Regions from separate parts of the Homo sapiens genome. Here region 1 is linked to region 2. Evidence: fine-mapped expression QTL. A gene starts in region 2. The other region holds a variant in brackets. All regions are shown on one strand. Distances are from middle to middle. Region 1 overlaps FKTN (fukutin). Region 2 holds the start of FKTN (fukutin).

Region 1 (9,266 bases), 43 kb before region 2:
CCACAGAAATAAAATTCTTCCAGTTTCCCTGTAGTTCTCTGTGTCCTCTATCTAGTCTTTTTTGGTACGTCTTGCTTAGCCTTCTTAATACTTTTACTATAAGGGTATACATCCATGAACATAATTTAGCATGTGTTTGAACTTTTTATAAAAGTAATAATAGAATTTACTTTCACTTTTGTATTTTCAATTTTTGTAGGTACATAGTAGGTGTGTATACTTATGGGTTACATGCAATATTTTGATACAAGCATGCAATGCATAATAATCACATCAGAGTAAATGGGGTATCTATCACCTCAAGCATTTATCCTTTGTATTAAACAATCCAAGTATACTTTTAGTTATTTTAAAATGTACAATTATTTTTTACTATAGTCACCTTGTTGTCCTAGCAAATACTCAGTCTTATTCATTATTTCTAACTATTTTTTTGTACCCATTAACCATCCCCCTCTTCCCCTCTTTCTCCCACTATGCTTCCTAGCCTCTGATAACCATCATTCTACTCTCTATCTCCATGAGTTCAGTTATTTTCATTTTTCACTCCCACAAATAAGTGAGAACATGGAAAGTTTGTCTTTCTGTGCCTGGCTTATTTCACTTAATATAATGATCTCCAGTTCTATCCATGTTGTTGCAAATGACAGGATCTCATTCTTTTTTATGGCTGAATAGTACTCCATTGTGTGTATGTACCACATTTTCTTTTGGCTATATTGTTAGTTATCAACAGTGGTTATATTATTCCTAATATTAACTTAAATACAGTTTCCAAACTTACTGATTTTGAAATGCTGAAGTAATACGGTATTTTAAAGATTAGTTCATAATTTATCTAAATGTTTCTAGAGAGGTTTAATTTCAAAGTGGGAAAATAAATTAGTCTTACCACACAATTTGTTCTTTATATTAAAATAAAGACAGCAAAAATCAATATACTGTCTTATAATCCATATTATTTCTGTTCAAAAAGTTATGGTCTCAGCCTTTAAAGGATAGTTCACTTAAACTTTTTTGGTATGATTATGAAGCTGTGTATACATATATATCATTGTTTATTAATGAATAAAAGAAACTTTTGAATGGAAAAAAATAATAATAATAATAGAATTTAGATTCTTTTGTGCCTTGTGTCATTCAGCATTGTAGGATTCATCCACAATGTGCACAGACCCCTAGTTTATTTTTCCCTGCTGTGTAATACTTCATTGTATGAACACATATATCAAAAATTATTTATTCCTTTACAGTTTTTTTTTTTTTTTTGAGACAAAGTCCTGCTCTGTTGCCCAGCCTAGAGTGTGGTATCACAATCTCGGCTCACTACAACCTCCACCTCCAGGGCTCAAGCAATTCTCCTTCCTCAGCCTCCCCAGTAGCTGGGATTACAGGCACCCACCACAATGCATGGATAATTTTTGTATTTTTTTGTAGAGACGAGGTTTCACCATGTTGGCCAGGCTGGTCTCGAACTCCTGACCTCAGGTGATCTGCCCACCTCGGCCTCCCAAAGTGCTGGGATTACATGCATGAGCCACAGTGCCCAGCCAATCCTTTTATTGTTGAAGGACATTTGGGTGGCTTCTAATTTGGAGTCATTAAGAATAATGTTACTGTAAATACTTATATAAATTATATATTAGATTTCAATACTCAAATGTAAAAACACTGCAAGAATTATGACTGAACAACACTCATTTCACATTTCACGTTTTGACTCTGAACTTACCTGTCAAAAGCTCCTGGATAACGACCAAACTGTAACTTTCGGAAGGGAACAAATTTCCTGTCAATGTGTTCTTTAAGTCTCAAGTGGCCGTGCCAGAGGTAGTTGCCACTCCTCTCATGAAAGACTACCAAGTGGATCGCATGAGTGGCCAGTTTGCAGATATAGTGCAGGGGGATTTCAGTTCCAGAGAGTGAGTCTATCCCGTCTAGCCGGGGATCTTTACTCTCAATCTTTAGGCACTGAAATCCCATATTCTCAGCTATCCGAAACCAGCCTTCCTAGAACCAAAGAAGCATCAAACATCAAGAAACAACACTTAAACATTGAATATTTAAAGCCAAATACTAGTAGCAAAACTAAAGTGATTCTTATATTGAACTTGAGCCATATTTTTGTGCTAATCTGCTCTGTAAGAACATTTTTTAATGAGGGTGATGGGCAGAAGGTAGTGGTGGGAGAATAAAGGAAAGCAGCAAAAATACAAAGTATGTAGCAGGAAAGATATAGCCAAAGACTCTCTTTATAGGTTGGGCACCATAGCTCACCCCTGTAATCCCAGCGCTTTGGGAGGCTGAGGCAGGTGGATCACTTGAGCTCAGGAGTTTGAGACCAGCCTGGGCAACCTGTCTCTACAAAAAATACAAACAAAAATTTGCCAAGGTGTGGTGGCATGTACCTGTAGTCCCAGCTACTTGGGGGTCTGAGCCAGGAGGATCACTTGAACCTGAGAGATCAAGGCTGCAGTGAGCCAAGATTGTGCCACTGCACTCAAGCCTGGGTGACAAAGTGAGACCCTGTCTCAAAAAAAAAAAACAAAAAAAACTCTATGAAAATTAATACAAATCCCTTCCTTGGAATGAGAATGCTCATGTTAGTGTTTTCCAGTTAGTTTCTATAAAGTAAATGTTGATTTAAGGACAGCACTTAAAATTAAACTTGTAATTCTTAATTTAACTTTTAATAACCTTTATCTTCAAAAGTACTTCAAAAAAGTAGTTCTTTCATCTCATAGTTTACATCCCAACATCTTAAAATACTACCATAATAGAACACCATCATAATGCAAATCATTAGAAATTAACAAACATACTGTAAGACAAGGTTCATTTTCCAACATCATTTGTTTCATTATCAACTGTAACATTCCCTTCTTCCCTTTTCTTTCTTGGTACACCTTAGAAGTAGAAAGCACTGACTGAGGGGGAGGGTAGCCAATTCAGAGAAAGACACTACTGAATAGAATAAAAGAAAGGCATTATCAGCTGACAAATTCAGGAAATATTTAAAAGGCCGGCCAGAACTTGAGAAGAACGTGACCTTGGGTTATAGGAGGAAAGACTGACAGACAAAATAGGCAGAATTATGATATGGTTTGCTTTCTTATAACCATCAACAAGAGAAGTAAAGAACAAAATAGTTGCTCTGATCAATTGGTGTAAAGGCCTAGGTCAAGGTTTTGCTAGAAAAGTCCACTCCCAGTAGCCTTGGCAGAGGTTTGCTCACTTTATGGTAATGGCATTAATAAAGAAAAATCACATGCAAATGGAGTCTTTCATTATTAGATCTAACAATCTGATTAGCTCCACATTGGGGGATGTTTTAGGGGGGACTATCCAAGGGCTCTTGAATCTCTTGAATAGTAGGATGTCATATGTACAAAAGGAGAAACTTTTGGGAGGCTGAGGCAGGTGGATCATTTGAGGTCAGGAGTTCAAGACCAGCCTGGCCAATATGGTGAAACCCCGTCCCTACTAAAAAAAAATACAAAAATCAGTCACACGTGGTGGCACACGCCTGTAATCCCAGCTACTCAGGAGGCTGAGGCAGGAGAATCCCTTGAGCCTGGGAGGCGGAGATTGCAGTGAACAGAGATTGCACCACTGCACTCCAGCCTGGGTGACACAGCGAGACTCCGTCTCAAAAAACAAAAACAAAAACAAAAAACCCAACACAAACAAACAAAAACAAACGAAGAATAAACTTGAACCCATGTGCTGATTCTGGGTATGGCTGAGCTTTTGCTTCTTCCTCTTGACTATGGTAGTATCAGTTTTGCCAATGGTGGCATACTCCCCTTCTTCTAAAATAGTGGTTCTCAAGGCAAGTGGGACTGTACCCAACAGATACTTCAGAAATTTGGGGGGATATTTTTGGTTTATCATAATGACAAACTGGCATTTAGAGTCCTAGGCCAAGAACATTAGATATCCTACAATCCAAAATATGAAAATCTATCCTGTGTACTATGTAATTTCAAATGTCCTGTCACATAATCACATAGTGAAAAACTTGTTTATAATTGTCTGAGCTTTTATTTCTCAGGAATACAATAGTCATGTCAATGAAGAGACAATTTTACTTTTTTTGTTGTTGGAAACTTGCTCACTATTTTGGAAAATCATATTGCCAACAACAATATCATTCATAGTATGGGTTTATATTTGTAGCTACCACATTCTGTGATCCTACTTCTAAATACAAGCATCTGAATTACTTTATTATGTCTTCCAGTGTAGTCATTCTGGAGCATCTGCACACAGCAATACATATCATTTCCTTTTATTTCTAGGTTATATTATAGTTAATACATTATATTGATTTGGGGAATTATGTATATAGGAGGGTTATAATTTCTATGAACTTCATTTGGGGAATATAAAGGGACATTATAAAATATTCTTTGTAAAAATAAGCCTTGTAGGCTTTTTCTATGAGATATCAAACAGTTCAACAGAAATGACCTAAAAATACCGATATTGAGAAGTTTCCCCCAGCAAAAAAGCAGAATCTTTCCTCTCATCTTCCTGTTGTGAACATGGATGTGATATGTGGAGCTACGACAGCTATCCTGTGATAATGAGGTAAATGAATAAAGAATTTCAGAGACACAAGTCCTGACATCAGTGGCTAGCTAAACTAATATCAATAGCCACTAACCTTTTAACCTCTCATTATATAAGAAAAAGAAATCCCCTATTTGCCTTAGTGATTAGTTGTATTGTTATTTATAGCTGAAAATATTCCTGATACAATTTATAAAGTGTTTCAGGAAAAATTTTTAATGTTTTACATTTTAAACTAGCCTAAACCTATACTATTTTGTAAAAAGAGACACATTCCATTATCTGAAAGCAAGTCACTTACCTCATTCTTCCATAGGTGATACTGCAGTGCAAATGCAGTAAAGTCTCTTGGAACACAGAAAAACTTGCATTGTGAAGTAGAGCCATGAGAAGTATTTTTGACTTGTTCAAAGTTCTTATTAATCAATTCCAGTATCAAAGGATCAATAAGAAACACTGGTACATTTTGGTTGGATGTTAACATAATAAATTTTTTAACTGCAC[G/A]CTGTTTGAGAGAAAAAGAATTCTCGTAATTCCAGTAAGCCAACACAACAGTCTATTTTATAACATTTTAATTCATTAATTGTATAAGAATGCAGAGTAGTTACCCAATAGATACCATGCTTATCATTGTGCTAAAAAATACAAATGATTAAATAGCACATATGGTCTCTGCTCTCAATAAGCAGTCTTCTAAGAAAGATGAACATTTTCAATATAAGGTGAAATATGCTACAAGAAAAACATATACAACATATTATAAAAGTACAGACCAGTAAGCTACAAATTTACCATACATCAAAAGGATAAGAAATTTCACAGAGGAAGTGGTATCTGACATGAAAATGTGGTGCTTAAAAAATTATTCTCTTAGTATTAGCTAAATCTTTTCAAGCAAAATTGAGAGAACTATCCGTCAGCTTTTAAAAATCAGTCTTGTTAATCTTTCAAAAACAAAATTCAGTTGTTTGTACCATTTTTCTTCATATCTGTAATGCTGCTTAATAATCTTTCTAAGCAAAAGACTCAGACCAAAATACACTGCCTGCTTGATGACTGCCATATATAATGTGCTTTTCTAATACTGCAATATTTCAAAATATAACTCTGCTGGGTAGTAAGTAGGGTCCCCTACTGAAAAAAACAAAAATTCAACAGTAGAATGAAAATGGACTAAATCACACTTAGGAATAAGTAATATCTAAGAACAGCAAGGATAAACAGAATATCTGGCATACACTATTGCTTAAAAGCCTACTTCAATGAAAGCAAGACTTATAGGAATGTTTGCCTATCAAAAAGGTGCTTCATGAAATTAAGAATAAATTCTTATTCAGAAAATCTGAAGGAACTCATAAAAATATATACAAGATAAATAAATAGACAAAATATCAATTGTAAGGATAAAGGATGAGATAAAGCTAAGAATCAGTCTCATTATTTGTTTTTAGTGTAGAGTATTATGCAAATGCCAAGAATACAATAATCTCTGCCTTATAGGGGTTTATTACCTCAGTGTGAGAAACAGCTAAGTAAAAAGTTAGGATAAACAATGTTACACCAAAAAATTCAACTTAGATGACACAAATTTCTTTAAAAATACAATTTAACAAAACTGCCACAAGATGAAACAAAATCTGAATTGCCCTATACCTATTAAAGAAACTGAATTTGTTAGGAAAAAAAAAAACTGCCCTCAAAACAACAAGGAAAAACTTCAGACTTAGACAGTTCACTGGTGAATTCTATCATTTTTAAGGAAGAATACCAATTCTACAAAAACTTTCTGAGAAAATGGAGCAGGAGAAAATACTTCCTATCTGATTTTAAGAGGCCAGTGCCATACTCAACAGCAAAACTTCTCACGCCTGTAATCCCAGCACTGTGGGAGGTCAAGGCAGGTGGATCACCTGAGGTCAGGAGTTCAGGACCAGCCTGGCCAACATGGTGAAACCCTGTCTCTACTAAAAATACAAAAATTAGCCGGGCGTGGTGGTGTGTGCCTGTAGTCCCAGCAACTCAGGAGGCTGAGGCAGGAGAATCACTTGAACCCGGGAGGTGGAGGTTGCAGTGAGCCGAGATCACAAGGTGGAGGTTGCAGTGAGCCGAGATCACATGGCTGCACTCCAGCCTGGGCGACAGAGAGACTTCATCTCAAAAAAAAAAAAAAAAAAGCAAAACCTGACAAAGACCTTACAAAAAAAAGTATAGTCCACCATCCCTCATGAACACAGATGCAAAAATACTTAATAAAATATTAGAAAATCAATTCCAGTAACTAAAAAAAGATAAAAAAGGAAAGTAAATATCATGACCAAGTAGTATTTATCCTAGGAATGAAAGCTTACTTTAGCATTTGAAAATCAATCAATAAAATTTGACAAATCAACAGAAAAAAGTGAAAAACTATGATAATTTCAATATAGAAAAAAGCATTTGACAAAATTCAGTATCTATTCATGATTTAAAACTTTCAGCAAACCAGGAATAAAATACATCCTCAACTTGATGAAAGGCATGAACAAAAAATCTATTACTGAGTCGTGTGGGAGTTCTTCATATATCTTTGATACCATTCCTTTGTGAGATACATGTTTTACAAATATTTGCTACTCTGTGGCATGCTTATTCATTTTCTTAATAGTGTTTTTTGATGACTAGAAGTTTAAAATTTTAATAGTCCAATTTAGCTATTTTGTGTGTGTGTGTGTGTGTGTCTTTTAGGGTTATTACTTTCTGTGCTTTATACTAGGAAAAAAACAAGAAAGAAATGGTTTTGGAAGAAAGATGAGATAACAGAACTACTACATAAAAGGTACTTTAATGTTTGTTGAATGGATCTCAGGTTGGTGTTAAATACAAATATGATGAACACACTTATAGCTTCATTACCATTATTAATATAAATACAGATTAGGTCAGGGTCAAGCAGAGATTCTATAACTCACCTTCTAAACACATCCTCCAAGTTGTTATCAATACAATCATTAACGCTCCTTGGAAACGTGTCCAGTTGATTCTAAATCCAATTAATTCTAAATCACTATTATCATCTGACCTTCAGTAACTCATTTTGTTTATAAGACTGAAAAACATCTTGTTGAAAAGAGATTATGCTGAGACCATAATAGCCCATTCATCTGCCTGTGTATTAAAATTTTATTAAAACCTAAAAAGTCTTGGCAGGACTTGTTCTTAGTAAAAGCCTAGTTCCTAATTATGATCATTTTCTTTTCTAAGTGCTCCCAAGTCATCTGTTTAATAACTCCATAAACATTGAGCCCTAGAATTTTACCAGGGCTCAATATCACACTATTGATGAGATTTCACCTTTTATTCCTTCTAAAAGTTTAGAAGTATGTTAGTACTTCTCCTTTCCTGTGATTTTGCAAATATAGTCATTCAGTGACCACATTTACAATTTTTTTTAGTCCCCTCAATGTAAAAGAGTATAAAGAGAACTCACTGAATGTGGTAAGCTGCTCTTCAACTTTTTGCTTGCGTACCGTGGAAGTAAAGACTTTGAAAAAAATCCATTATTTTCTCCCACCTCAAGGATCATTTCTTGAATGAAAAGGATAGAGTCACGCTACTTTTTTCTATTATTTTAAGCTTTAAATTTTTCACAAATTCCATTTTAAAATGTATCAGTGAACCTGTACTTTCTCTGACTGCTCTCTCTATTTACTAAAAGGTTTGGGAATGTTGTCAGAATGTTGTTGGTTAATACCGATAAAGGAAAACCTTTTATCCAACTGAAGCTACTACGGCTTTAAATTTTTTGCTGAAATTGCTTTACAGTGTACAGATGAAGACTCCTAATAAATGGCAAATCTGAAAAATATATGTTTCTCTAAGTATCATCACATCTTATAATGTTAAAATGTATGAAAGATCACCCCTGTTGCCTTTGGCTGTTAAAATACTGAATTTTAAATCTCAGCAAATTACTTCAACCACAAGATGATAAATCAGGTCCAAGTATTAGGTGTATGTGTTTCCTAAGGGTGGGATGGAGGTAGAGAAGTGTTACAGAGAAGCATACAAAATACCTCTTTTTAATTTAATCTAAAATCTTTATAACTGTGACTGGGTAGTATAACTTCCAAGTATATCATGCTTACCTTTATCCTCAGAATACCCTAAATTCACAGAGCAAAACAATTGCTATTTTTAATAAATTAAAAGTTTACATTGACACTTATAGACTAGAGAGCTGGGGAGCCTGATAATAGGATATCCCAGACTTTACTTTTAAACAGTAGTTCAAAATCTACTTGGTGTTAGCAATGATCTAAAATGACCACTGCTTGGTGATCTGAAAATCCACTTCTAATTTAAAGTGTTCCACATCTCTAGTTATAGAGAAGCCAAAGATTGAAGTGTATCAAGAAATATCTGGTCATTCCCATAATGTATGCTAACAGAATAAATGTTGTGTTTTATTAGTAACCCAGCAATGTTTTTCTTTCTAAATTTAGTTTTAAAACATAGGAAAATATATTTTATCAATGTGTAGGTTCTGAAATTTCTAAAACAAAACAAGGATATATTGTATATATTGCTGGTTTCCCCTCATCTTATAAAGGAATAGGTTGAATAGATTTTTATTCCTGATCATTACTTTTCCCTTATTCAAATAAATCTGATTCATATATTCATTCATTTAGGGAAACACCATAGCTCAGTGA
Region 2 (13,227 bases):
AAGAATGTTGAATATTGGCCCACACTCTCTTCTGGCTTGTAGAGTTCCTGCCGAGAGATCAGCTGTTAGTCTGATGGGCTTCCCTTTGTGGGTAACCCGACCTTTCTCTCTGGCTGCCCTTAACATTTTTTCCTTCATTTCAACTTTGGTGAATCTGACAATTACGTGTTTTGGAGTTGCTCTTCTCGAGGAGTATCTTTGTGGCATTCTCTGTACTTCCTGAATTTGAATGTTGGCCTGCCTTGCTAGGTTGGGGAAGTTCTCCTGGATAATATCCTGCAAAGTACTTTCCAACTTGGTTCCATTCTCCCTGTCACTTTCAGGTACACCAATCGGACGCAGATTTGGTCTTTTCACATAGTCCCATATTTCTTGGAGGCTTTGTTCATTTCGGTTTATTCTTTTTTCTCTAAACTTCTCTTCTGGCTTCATTTCATTCATTTGATCTTCCATCACTGATACCCTTTCTTCCAGTTGATCAAATCGGCTACTGAAGCTTGTGCATTCTTCATGTAGTTCTCGTGCTATGGTTTTCAGCTCCATCAGGTCCTTTAAGGACTTCTCTGCATTGGTTATTCTAGTTAGCCATTCGTCTAATCTTTTTTCAAGGTTTTTAACTTCTTTGTGTTGGGTTTGAACTTCCTCCTTTAGCTCGGAGAAGTTTGATCGTCTGAAGCCTTCTTCTCTCAACTTGTCGAAGTCATTCTCCATCCAGCTTTGTTCCATTGCTGGTGAGGAGCTGCGTTCCTTTGGAGGAGGAGAGGTGCTCTGATTTTTAGAATTTTCAGTTTTTCTGCTCTGTTTTTTCCCCATCTTTGTGGTTTTATCTACTTTTGGTCTTTGATGATGTTGATGTACAAATGGGTTTTGATGTGGATGTCCTTTCTGTTTGTTAGTTTTCCTTCTAACAGTCAGGACCCTCAGATGCAGGTCTGTTGGAGTTTGCTGGAGGTCCACTCCAGATCCTGTTTGCCTGGGTATCAGCAGAGGCTGCAGAACAGCGAATATTGCTGAACAGCAAATGTTGCTGCCTGATCGTTCCTCTGGAAGTTTCGTCTCAGAGGGGTACCCGGCTGTGTGAGGTGTCAGTCTGCCCCTACTGTGGGGTGCCTCCCAGTTAGGCTACTTGAGGGTCAGGGACCCACTTGAGGAGGCAGTCTGTCCGTTCTCAGATCTCAAGCTCCATGCTGGGAGAACCACTACTCTCTTCCAAGCTGTCAGACAGGAACATTTAAGTCTGCAGAGGTTTCTGCTGCCTTTTGTTTGGCTATGCCCTGCCCCCAGAGGTGAAGTCTACAGAGGCAGGCAGGCCTCCTTGAGCTGTGGTGGGCTCCACCCAGTTCGAGCTTCCCGGCCCCTCTGTTTATCTACTCAAGCCTCAGCAATGGCGGGTGCCCCCCCCCCCAGCCTCGCTGCCACGTTGCAGTTCAATCTCAGACTGCTGTGCTACAAATGAGTGAGGCTCCGTGGGCATAGGACCCTCCGAGCCAGGCGTGGGATATAATCTCCTGGTGTGCTGTTTGCTAAGACTGTCGGAAAAGCACAGTATTAGGGTGGGAGTGACCCGATTTTCCAGGTGCCATTTGTCCCCCCTTCCCTTGGCTAGGAAAGGGAATTCCCTGACCCCTTGCACTTCCCGGGTGAGGTGATGCCTTGCCCTGCTTCGGCTCACGCTCGGTGCGCTGCACCCACTGTCCTGCACCCACTGTCCGATAATCCCCAGTGAGATGAACTCAGTATCTCAGTTAGAAATGCAGAAATCACCCGTCTTCTGCGTCGCTCACGCTGGGAGCTGTAGACTGGAGCTGTTCCTATTCGGCCATCTTGGAACCCCACTGCATATTCTTTCAGCTTCCTTTTTACATTTGCATTTGTCCTTTGAAGGTATTAGTATGAAAGACTTTTGGTAACTGGTTTACCCTGACACCTCCTCCAGCCCCAGACCCCACTCTTTTGAGAATCACCTAGGTAGGGGTCTGTTTGAATGAATGAATGAATGAATGATATATCAAGAGAGATGATCCAGAAGGCAGGAGTGGGGGGAAGTGGAATCAAAAACCTTCCCTGACACCTAACTTAGGTTCATAAGATGATATGTGAGAGCCTAGCCATATCCTTATGCTGTGGGATCCCCGACTTATTTGGGGATATTGGGGAGTAAGAGTGAGGCATAGATAGTATGAATCAGAGAGTGAAACTGCCTTTGCAAAATTATGACAGCTAAGAGAAATCTCATAGTTGATTCCATCTTGTTTCTGACCTCCAATCTGTCCTTGGTCATTTCTGGGTGCAGGCCAAGCTAACTTTGAAAGGAATTTAGTTTACAGTTTAACCTAAAGCAAGGATGATAGTAACCTTTTCCAAAACTAAACTGCCTTTATAAAGGTAATGAAAGACTACAAGATTAGGATTATGAGAGGGACCTGAATTCTGGTAACATGTAGTTAAATGATAACCAGTCTTTTTTCCAGAGGACACAGGATTTATATTTTCCCTGGCTACAGAACCTAAGATTGGTCTTTTGAGATATTTTTCAGACCTTTGCATTCTGGACCAACTGACACTACCTAGAGGTGAACTAGTGACTCATGACCCAACCAGTCACGTGGCTCCCCACCCAGAGGTGGACTCAGCACACAAGGACCATTTTTCACACCCTTATCATCACATCCCCAGCCAACCAGCAGCCCTCATTCCCTAGTCCCCTGCCACCAAACTAAAAACTATCCTTGAAAAACTAACCACCAAGTCTTTGGCGAGACTGATTTGAGTAATAACTCCTTTGCACAGCCAGCATCATTGTTAAGTAAGCTGTTTCTTTACTGCAGTAGCACAGTCTCAGTGAACTGGTTTCGTTTGTGCAGCGCACAGGAAGAATCCTTCAGGCAATTCATTAAAACAGAACTGACATTCAAATATGCTCTGAACAAAATAAAACAGGAGGCTGAACTACAGAGGAAAGAGAGTAGTGTAATTAGGAAAAGGTATAGTTAGAGAGATGATGTAGCAGATTGGCAGGCATAAAGAGAAAATGCGTCTGAAAATGAATTCAGAGGTCAGACCAAAAAAAAAAAAAAATCGACATTTTTCAGCTGTTCTCAAAAGCCAAAAATATCCCAGTAGCAACAGCTACTATCAAATCTTCCCTAAATACTGTTGGTCTTTCTTATTGTCCATTTCTTTTCCTTTGACTGCTAACTTTTCACAACTGTCAGCAGCTTGGAAGTAAACATTAGACTGCAAAGGGTTAAGAAGTTTCTTTACCTGCTTACCATTCATGCACTTAATCCTTTGCAATATAACTTCTACCTACACATGCTGTTACTTGAAGATAAAAAGCTAATGAAATTTAGTTTCTCCAGTAGATGCTCCAGAAAAATCATAAATACATAGTTACTCCTTTCTGAATGACTATGGTGTAAGAGGGTTTTGGAAAGATAGTGGCTGAAATGAAAGATATAGATAAGACAGGTTAGCAGGAAGGAAGGTGAAGACAGCAAGGATTGTCTTTGGGTTGGGAGGAGTGTAGGTGCTTTTATTTTTTTTCCTTATTTATCTTACGTGAACATCAATTGATTTTGTAGTAAGAAAAAAACTAAGTTTTTTTTAAAACTTTAAAAATTCTCCTCTCATCCTAAATGAAATGACAAATATTCATTTACTAGAGCCCACATGTAATTATGTTAATGTCTCCCCATTTTTGAAGTAACACAAGTTTTTATTTTTTTAAGAAATGGAGTCTTGCTCTGTCACCCAGGCTGGAGTGCAGTGTCACAATCATAGCTCACTGCTGCCTCAAACTGCTAGGCACAAGCAATCCTCCCACCTCAGCCTCTTGGGCACCTGGAATGATTATAGGCATGAGACACTGTCCGGCTCCCAAAGTTTGTTTTTTGTTTTGTTTTTTTTTTTGTTTTTTGAGACGGATTCTTGCTCTGTTGCCAGGCTGGAGTGCAGTGGCACAATCTCAGCTCACTGCAACCTCCGCTCCCAGGTTCAAGTGATTCTCCTACCTCAGCCTCCCGAGTAGCTGGGACTACAGGCATGTGCCACCAAGCCTAGCTAATTTTTGTATTTTCAGTAGAGACAGGGTTTCATCAGGCTGGCCAGGATGGTCTTGATCTCTTGACCTCGTGATCCATCCACCTTGGCCTCCCAAAGTGCTGAGATTACAGACGTGAGCCACCGTGCCTGGCCCCCAAATTATTTTTAAGTGGCTCCCTCAAGAATGCAAGTACTTAATTGCTTGGTTCTGGACACTTGGGTATTTATCTTAATAAAATCATACAGCAAATAGAATCAAACACAGGGCTTAGAGTGTGACATGTACTTAGTGCAACACTTAAATTGTGAATGTATGTACATATGTAAAATCTGGATGAATGTTCCCAAAAATATTAATAATGGTTATCTCTGGGTAGGGAGAATTAGGAGTGATTTTTACATGGTTCTTTACACTTTTCTATATTGTTCCAATATTTGTATAAGCATATATTATTTTCATAAGAAGTAAAATTATTTTATCCTAGGAGAAACAGATGATGGGTAGTGGTAGTGGCTTAATAACGGCCATATTTGCTAAACAGGATCTAGATTCTTGTCACTTAAAAGTATGGTCCTAAGAACATCAGTATCACATTGGAGCTTGTTAGTAATACAGAATTTTCAGCCCCCACCTACTGATTCATAATCTACATTTTAATAAAATCCTCAGATGATTCATATGTACATTAAAATTTGAAAAGCACTGATGTAGATGCTAAGGGCTTTACATGCAGGGAGGATAAGAACAATGTCTACCTTGCTCGTCGTTATATCCCTAGAACCAGCAGTGCTTGAAACATATAAATATTTGTTGAATAAATAAATATGTAAATGATACCACTTCTGGGTAGACAATTAGGCAGTGGAGATTATATCTATTTGAATTATTTATTTTCTGCCAGAATTCCCAGAAGTAGGTGCTTATTATTTGCTGTAAATGCTGTTAAATTAGCTTAATAACAACACTGGGCCCCTGAGAATCTACAACTATATGTAACTTTTTTAAAAAGAACTCCTTCCTTGCTCTTAGCTCTGAGATCCACATGCCTCCTTCAATAATTTCTCCAACCTCCTCTCTGTGGGTATGGCCTATAGTTACTCTCTCTACAATCTCTCCCTGAAACCAAATCCATTCTCAAGATTTTAACTACCACCTGTGAGAGAAAACACTATTTAAATTACAGTCCATGCACTCTATCTGCCTATATTTTCAACTCTATTTCCTGCACCTCACCTCAAATTTAACATGTTCAAAATTAACTTTTTTTTTTTTTTGAGACAGAGTTTCGCTCTTGTTGCCCAGGCCGGAGTGCAGTGGCCTGATCTTGGCTCACTGCAACCTCTGCCTCCCAAGTTCAAGCGATTCTCCTGCCTCAGCCTCAGGAGTAGCTGGGATTACAGGCGCCCGCCACCACACCCGGCTAATTTGTTGTATTTTTAGTAGAGATAGGGTTTCACCATGTTGGCCAGGCTGGTTTCGAACTCCTTGGCCTCAGGTGATCCACCCGCCTCAGCCTCCCAAAGTGCTGGGATTACAGGCGTGAGCCACCGCGTCCAGCCCCAAAATTAACAATTTTATTCTCTGTCAACTATCGTCCTCTCCCAGTCCAGAAGAAAGTAACTAGCTCTCCATCCTCACAGTCTCTAGTTTTACAGGCTTTAGAGAAGAGAGATCAGCTGGCCCAACATCACCTTATGGAGAATAGGCTCTAGAAGAATTAAATGACAGCCAAGAGGCTAGTTATTGGCAACCTCAGCACTCTACGATCTAAATCACTTTATTCCCAGTACACTATTGCATGCTGGAATTCAACAGAATTCCCATTTTTGCCAACAGCACTTAAACTTACTTTTTAGAAACGCAGGTTAAAAATATCATCACCCAGATCCAAGAAATCAAGTCCTGCGTATTGTTCTTTCGGCATTTCCCCGGTTCCTTTCTTCTTCCTTGTCAGAACACCCTGCACTTCCTTTCCACTAAGAGTTCTTTCACCGTTCAATGCCAGCCTTCCCAAATCCTCTACCCTCACTAAACTTATGTCCACAAATAGAATCGCTAAAATATAAATGCTTATTCCTGCATTTGATATCTTTGTCCATGGCCCAACAGAGATGGTTTCCAATCGTTCAAACCCTATTTATCCTCAGAGTCTAGCTCAAACACAGCCTTTTCTACTGGGCTTCCATCTGCCCAATTTCTAATATACTGCTCTATCATTCACTTTGTCATTTGTTCACAGCTTGATTTTTACCGACTGGAAACGTGCTATCTTCAAAAGCATAAAGAATCTGATATATCATCTAGGTCCTTTTTTTTTTTTTTCCACATCTGACAAAACTGAAGCCAAGAGAAATGTGGCTTACCTCATGTTAAATGAGAAATTGTAAATTTCAGGCCGGGCGCGGTGGCTCACGGCTGTAATCTCAGCACTTTGAGAGGCCAACGCGGGCGGATAACCTGAGGTCAGGGGTCACTACCCTAACCCGGCTACTACAAGAGTCTCGATCGTCCTCCAACCTTTCATCTGTCCCAGGATTAAGATTTCACCTGATGACACGCCCAGAAGTGCGGGAAGGACTGGCCAAGTGGAAGTCTACCACGCGATGCTCGTGGACTGACTGAGGAGTACCCAGCCCGGAGCGCGCTCAGCCTGTGGCCGGCCTCCTCACCAAGGGGTAGGCAGGTGCCCAGAATGCTGGAGGATGCCCGGTAAGGGCACCCGAGTCGCCAGCGGTACCTGTCTGAAGGCGCCCACCCATCCCCGGGTACCGACCTGAGCCTCCCGTACCTTACCTCACTCAACAGCAGGCTGCAGCCGCTCCGCTTTACGGCACTCACAGCAACCGCCGCAAAAGCCGCCGTCAAGTGCTGAGCGGCGGAGGCTGGCTTGGTTCCTGCTGGGACGTTCCCACGGTCCAGCCCCAGCCTCGGCTTTCCTGTGACTCTTGTCGCATCCTCACCGCCAGAAGTTCACTGAGCCCTGGCGATTCCTCGCTTTTATAATCTAGCCACTTAGCCAAAGCCCTTTTTTATCTCTTGCCTAATTGACAACTACAGCAGCGCACTGAGGCAATCTGAGAGTTTAAGTTCTGAAACGCTTTCGACAGCGGAAGATGAACTGGAGGCAGCAGCTGAGCCGTTTTCCAAGCCCGTTAAATGTGAACTTCTGATAAACGAGTGGTTTTTTTAGTGCGTGTGCTTTGCTAGAGGGATTCAGCATAACTCCCTGAAGTTTGGTTTGGATACAATTAGTAGAGCTAGGGGATAGAGTGGAAAATAGCAGCTGCGTTCACTATTCCTCATGAAGTTGAGGTGCCTTTATGACATTCAAGATTTAGCGACCTGTTGCCCTCCAGTTTAAGGCTGGATACAATTTTGTACCTGATTAACTTTTTTCTTTTCTTTTTTTGTAGAGACGTTGGGGGCTAGCAGGGCGGGGTGTGGCGGGGGTGGGGGGGAGGGCGTCCTCACCATCTTGCCCAGGCTGGTCTCGAACTCTTGGCCTCAAGCGATCCTCTCACTTTGGTTCTTTTAACGGTGTAATCCAAAAGGTGGTTGTTAAGGCTCAGATATTAATCTTCTTATAAATTTTTGAAAACCATAATTCACTAAACCAGTTACTGTAATTATAATTTATTTCTACAAAACGGAAAATACTCCCATCATATATTTGTTTTCTAAGCTTTGTTTTTAATTCTATCAGTACAGAAAGAAAAGGAAGAAAAAATCTTCCTCACTTCCTACAGGTTATGACATTTACCAACTTTTTGTTTTTCCTTCCAGAAATTTCCTATGCACATACAAGCTTACTGTTGAAGTCCTCTCATCCAATGCACTCAGAACGGGTAGGTACTCAGTAGGTTAATAAAAAAAAGTGGAAGGTTACACCAAGAGGAAGTAAGTTATCAAAGCTTAATGGCATCATTAACACAGGTGCTAACGTGATGGGACATGGGAAAACTTGAGCATCACATACTTGCTATTGATTGAAACACATCAAATATAAAAATTCTTGAGTTTATAATGACTCCTTAAAAAATAAAATTCAGTCGTGATTGAAGATTGCCAAGTTGAAGATTAAATATTCTAAAACTTGATAAGGGAAAACATCAAGCATTTATCCTGCCTTTCTTGTATGAATTGAATTTTAGTGTAACCAAAGTACTTATAAGAGTTCCAGCTAATAAATGGAGGATGATAAAACAATCACGATTTTGTAACTCCTAATAAAATAATCGAAAGGGCAACATCAATAGATGATAAAATTAAGGTGAAAGGTTGATGGGGAACTTTATAATAGACTGGCATCACCTAAACCCACTGATCTTAATCTCACTAAATTTGGGACAAGCATATATTATGTACTTCCTGATGTGATAGAAAGTACACAGCCACACCTGTGAAGGATTCTTGCCTAAAAATTGAACCTGCATTTACTCAAACTCTAGATCTAATACAGGATATAGAGAAGCAACTAAATTCAGAAAACGGGACATTCTACCAGACAAATTCCTCAGTTTTTTTCATAAATGGCATTTAAAAGCAGAGGGAACTATTGTAAAATCAAATATTTAAGAGATGTAACGGAGTACAATGTGTGGACCCTGTCTAGATCTTGATTTGAACAAGATAACTGTAAAAAGATACTTCTGAGACAACTGAAATTTTAGTATGGACTGATCCATTAGATAATAGTACAGAATTACTGTTAATTTTGCTAAGAATGTTAACAGAATGTGGCTGTTTTTAAAAGCCATCATGGATGCATATAGCATACTTACAGGTGACATTTTAAAACAAAATAGATAGCACAAACATGGCAAAATGTTAACAATTGATTAGGTGATGAGCACAAAGCACTGGCTTTCTACTTTTCTGTATATTTGGAAATTATAATTAAAAGTAACAGGAAAAGGGAAAAATTATCAGGTTCTTAGAAATAAATACTTTCCAAGTGTATAACAAATCTAGTTCTGAATAAACCTTCTCAAAAAGGCAGTTTCAGTAGAGGGTTACAATGGCCAATCTTCTGTTTTGAACTAAGTTCATTTTAAGCATGGACCAGCTGATTAGAGTATCTCACTGTTTTTCTTACAAAACCATAGACATAATGCATCATCCATCATTTGTAGTTTCTGTTTCTGTAAAATGGACCAGGAACTTAAAGATACAAGTGAAGGAATATAAATTTGGAGTCCTGGAATTTATTTTTAAAAATCTTCCCCTATCACTCACAATTACTTTGGCCACAACTAACTTTGCAACTTTTTAAACTCTTCATCTCTAATGGTTCTCGTACTTTTCTTATAAGTACCTTTTCATACTCATTTCATATTTATTTTGGTTTATATATTTATATAATTGGTTTACATACTTACATGACTACAACAGTGACTACCACCTACATAAGCAGGTTTGGGAACAAACATAACTGAAGGTAAATATACAACTAAACTGGTGGCAGTGTTACTTATCAAGCATACTGAAAGGTCAAATGTGAGCCCTCAGCTCATGGCAAACGTCAAGTCAGTATGCTTTAATCTGGATAGCAAATACAGCTGAAAGAGTGGGTACAAGGATGCATAAAAACAGCCTCTCTTACAAGTAAATATTCATGTTCTATAAACCACTCAGCTGTGCACACATGTAAGGATCCTGGCCGACTCCTAACATTTGTAGGGTCTGGGCCAAGAATACAAATGAAAGCCAACCCTGACATATTTTCAGTGTCTAAATAGCTGAGCGTTAACCAACAAATAAAATGTTATACTCTTCTACTTTAACATGTATTCTCAAGGAACAGAAATCTAGGTTCAAATATGCGATTCGCAGATTCTTCAGAAGTGTACTAGAAAGTGATACTAGGTTGGCCTGCCCTTCCCTGATCCCCTGGGTCTCTTTTTACTTCTAGCTTAAGCCTGCCACAGGGGCCTATCATGCATGCATGTGGACAACTCAGTCTGCACATCCAAGCTTCATCTGTACTTCCCACAAACTGCCAGCCATAGGGGTATATACATCTGTAGTAGTCTTTTTTCAGGATGGATTTGGACAAAAGGCCTGCACATATCCTGGAAGCAAGCTTCAGGCTGATGAGGCAAGGAATCCTGGGGTTCTGGCTGATAACATAGTATAGAATTCTGTGGGTAAAGGAACATGGATTCCAAGTAGGCATAGTCCCTTGGCTCCTCAATTTTTCATCCCATGAAGAGAGGCACAGCAAGAGTGTGGGGATCCGGTTAGTTAGCTTACCTTAGGTAGGTAACAAGAGAAGGGTCCTGGAGAGCCCCTGGCTCATGAGTCAGTGCCTTATCCCCAGATAATATAAAAAGCAGCCTGGGAAAAAAGCTGCAGGCACCAATAAGGGAACTAGCACAGGGTGTTGTGCCTGGAGACATGCCCATGACTGCACAGATGGAAAAACCTACGGCCCATTTGGATAAAAACTTGCACAAACCTCCAGCTCACTCAGATAAGGGAACAAGGCCTGGCATAGAAATGCCTTGGTCCTTTGTATTGTCAGCAGGTTCCCAGGAAAAGTTTATTCCCCTTTTGTAGGCATGGGCACAGTGGGCTCTGGTAAGTTCCTATGGGCGCTCTACTTTCCTTTGTTAGGACTGTAAGTCCAGCTGCTGTGTATCATCACCTCAGCCCGATTGGTCCTCGGCCACACTTCACTTCAGCTTCTGATAGGTCCTGGGCCAAGCTAAGCAGCATCTATGAATCATTTCACCTCCTGACTGGTCCCGGGCCAAGCCGAGTCACGCATTCGCCAAGACAGCCCCCAGACTAAGCACATTCCTTCCCCTTCCGTCCATAAAAACCTGGACCCCAGCCTCATGATGGGCACTCCCGTTCGGGACCCCCTCTCTGCTGGCAGAGAGCTTTCTTCTTTCACCTTATTAAACTTTCACTCTAACCTCACCTTTGTGTCCGTGCTCCATAATCGTCTTGGAGGTGGGACAAGAACTCCAGGTGTTATCTCAGACAACGAAAGACTGTTTCAATAATGTAGTATATAAGTGGACAAGAACTCCAGGTGTTATCTCAGACAACGAAAGACTGTTTCAATAATATAGTATATAAGTGGGTAATGAAACATGCATTCCAAGTAGGCATAATCCCTTGGCTCCTCAATTTTTCATCCCATGAAGAGAAGCACAGCAAGACTGTGTGGTGATCAGGTCAGGGTCCCCTCTTACCCAAGTATACATGCATGCACACACCCGTTGTATCGTACTGTATATATTGCTGGATGACTTTTTTGTTTAATATCATGAATACACTTCCATTAACAGCATATCCTTTAACAGCTGTGTAGGATCACATGGAAATACCAAAATCTAACCATCTGCTCTTGTGCTGACCTTGTGCAAAAATAAATAAATACAAATACACCATGCAGTGTAAGTGTAAAATGGGGTTTAGTAGAAAAGTAGAGTGCACATAATATCCTGAGCTCTTATGCCACAGAACTCCCAGCCAGGCACAAATGAACTGGTATACCAAGGAAAAGGCTCTAATTAAGCCAATTGTCATAATGGTCTATATAACATTTATTGGGGAGGGGAATGTGCAGAATATATAATATCTAGACCACTACTTATATGGTAGTTTGCTGGTGCAGCAAGTTAGAAAAGGGGAGCCTTCAAAATTCTGTTATCACATTCTTTTGTTGAGGCAACTTGGGCCTTTTGAACCAGTTCTGTGCCTTGCTACCAAAAAAGGAAAAGGAATTTACCTCCAAGTCCATCCAAATTTGTAGGTCTTCAATTAATAATTAGGTTGCTACTATTAGCTATGGTAATGCTGCAAGGAACATTGGCTTTTTTGTGAGTATATATGTAAGAGAAATACTTATAAAGGAAATTAAGGAGCATGTGCATTTAAAAATCTTAATATTGCTAAAATTGTTCTCCAGAAATGCTGCACCCATTCACTCTCCATCTTCTATAGTGGTTTATCAATCTTTGTCCATTCTTCTTCCTGTGACTCAAGACTATCCAGTCTCCTTTCATTCTTCTTACATAACTTCTTAGTTACAGGCGCTCCAGTCTCACTGATTTTTTTTCTTTTAAACTGTTTTCAAGTTAGAGCAAGAATTTTAAAAATGTTTAGGTTCTGATTCTGACTCTTAGTTACCATCTACCAAAATGTAACCCAACATGTAGCAAGATCCAAAGAAACCAAATTCATAAGTAATATTATAGTTACTAACATAGCATGTTTCATTTTCCATCTGTAGGTACACTGTTCAAAACAGTGGCTATTAGCAATATGCAACTCTATGTAGCCACATATAAAGTGCTCAGTAGCTGCCTATGGCCAGTCACTACTGTATTGGACTGCACAAATAACTTTTCATAATTGCATAAAATTCTGTTGAACAGTAGTGCTCTAAAATGTTAAGCTTTTTAGGCAAAGGAACTATGACTTTTTTTATATTCTCATCCCCAACAGCATATTGTATTTATACTTAAATAAAAGTTAATAAAATCAAACAATGAAGCAAAAGAGAGCAGGAAAAGAGTTTTTAAATTTTTAATGAGATATTCCAGGTGCTTCTGTAAAATCTTAACTGGGACATTCTATATAGAACACAAAATCATTTCAAAATACACGTTACTCCACTTTGAATACCCTATTTTAAAGTGAAAAAAAAACATTTTAAAAAGGCTTTGTCTTGTTTCTAAGGAAAATGAGGCCATGTGCTTCTTAAAACACTATTGTATGGCACTGAGTGCATCATAAGTATCATTAAAGGTCTTCAGCCATAACTTAAAAGGCCAAACCTGAGGAATTAGAATTTTTATTATCACAACTGCATAGCAAAATCATGTCCAGATAATAGACATACTAAATCTGTAGATTCAGATAACCTGTAAACCATTTAATCCAATTTAAAGCAAAACAAATATGTCAGGAGAGATACCAAGAGATAACCAGGTTAACAAGATTTTGAAATGCTTCATCTTTTTTTAAAAATGATAATGCAACAAAGTTGTCAAATGTTCAGTGGTTACATTTTATATCATTTATCCGTGACAACAAGCTGCCCAGCCATTTGGTTGTTTGGAAAGAACTGTTTAGACCAAATACACTCTTTGCATGTGGCACTGGGCAGCCCTAACTTCAAAGTGCAAATGCCTGCATGGAAATGTAGCTTAATTCATTTATTTATG

What was found. PIP is the estimated chance that this variant, and not a neighbour inherited with it, causes the effect.
Region 1: its variant is fine-mapped to the expression of FKTN in whole blood (TOPMed, PIP above 0.99).

What each region holds. Positions count from the first base shown.
Region 1 is chr9:105,596,959-105,606,224 of GRCh38, reverse strand. It overlaps FKTN (fukutin), which reads right to left. Exons shown (of 11, transcript NM_001079802.2): 5 at 4,877-5,080; 6 at 1,733-2,010. Among named protein-coding and RNA genes, the nearest start is that of FKTN-AS1, 43 kb to the right of the region's middle. The variant G/A (reference allele first, on the strand shown) is at 5,080.
Region 2 is chr9:105,551,777-105,565,003 of GRCh38, reverse strand. FKTN (fukutin) reads right to left here and starts at 6,873. Exons shown (of 11, transcript NM_001079802.2): 1 at 6,839-6,873. FKTN-AS1 (FKTN antisense RNA 1) reads left to right here and starts at 6,698. Exons shown (of 3, transcript NR_184141.1): 1 at 6,698-7,234; 2 at 7,829-7,890; 3 at 10,661-10,969. It overlaps FSD1L (fibronectin type III and SPRY domain containing 1 like), which reads right to left. Exons shown (of 14, transcript NM_001145313.3): 14 at 12,571-13,227. RefSeq lists enhancers at 6,613-6,802, 6,963-7,012.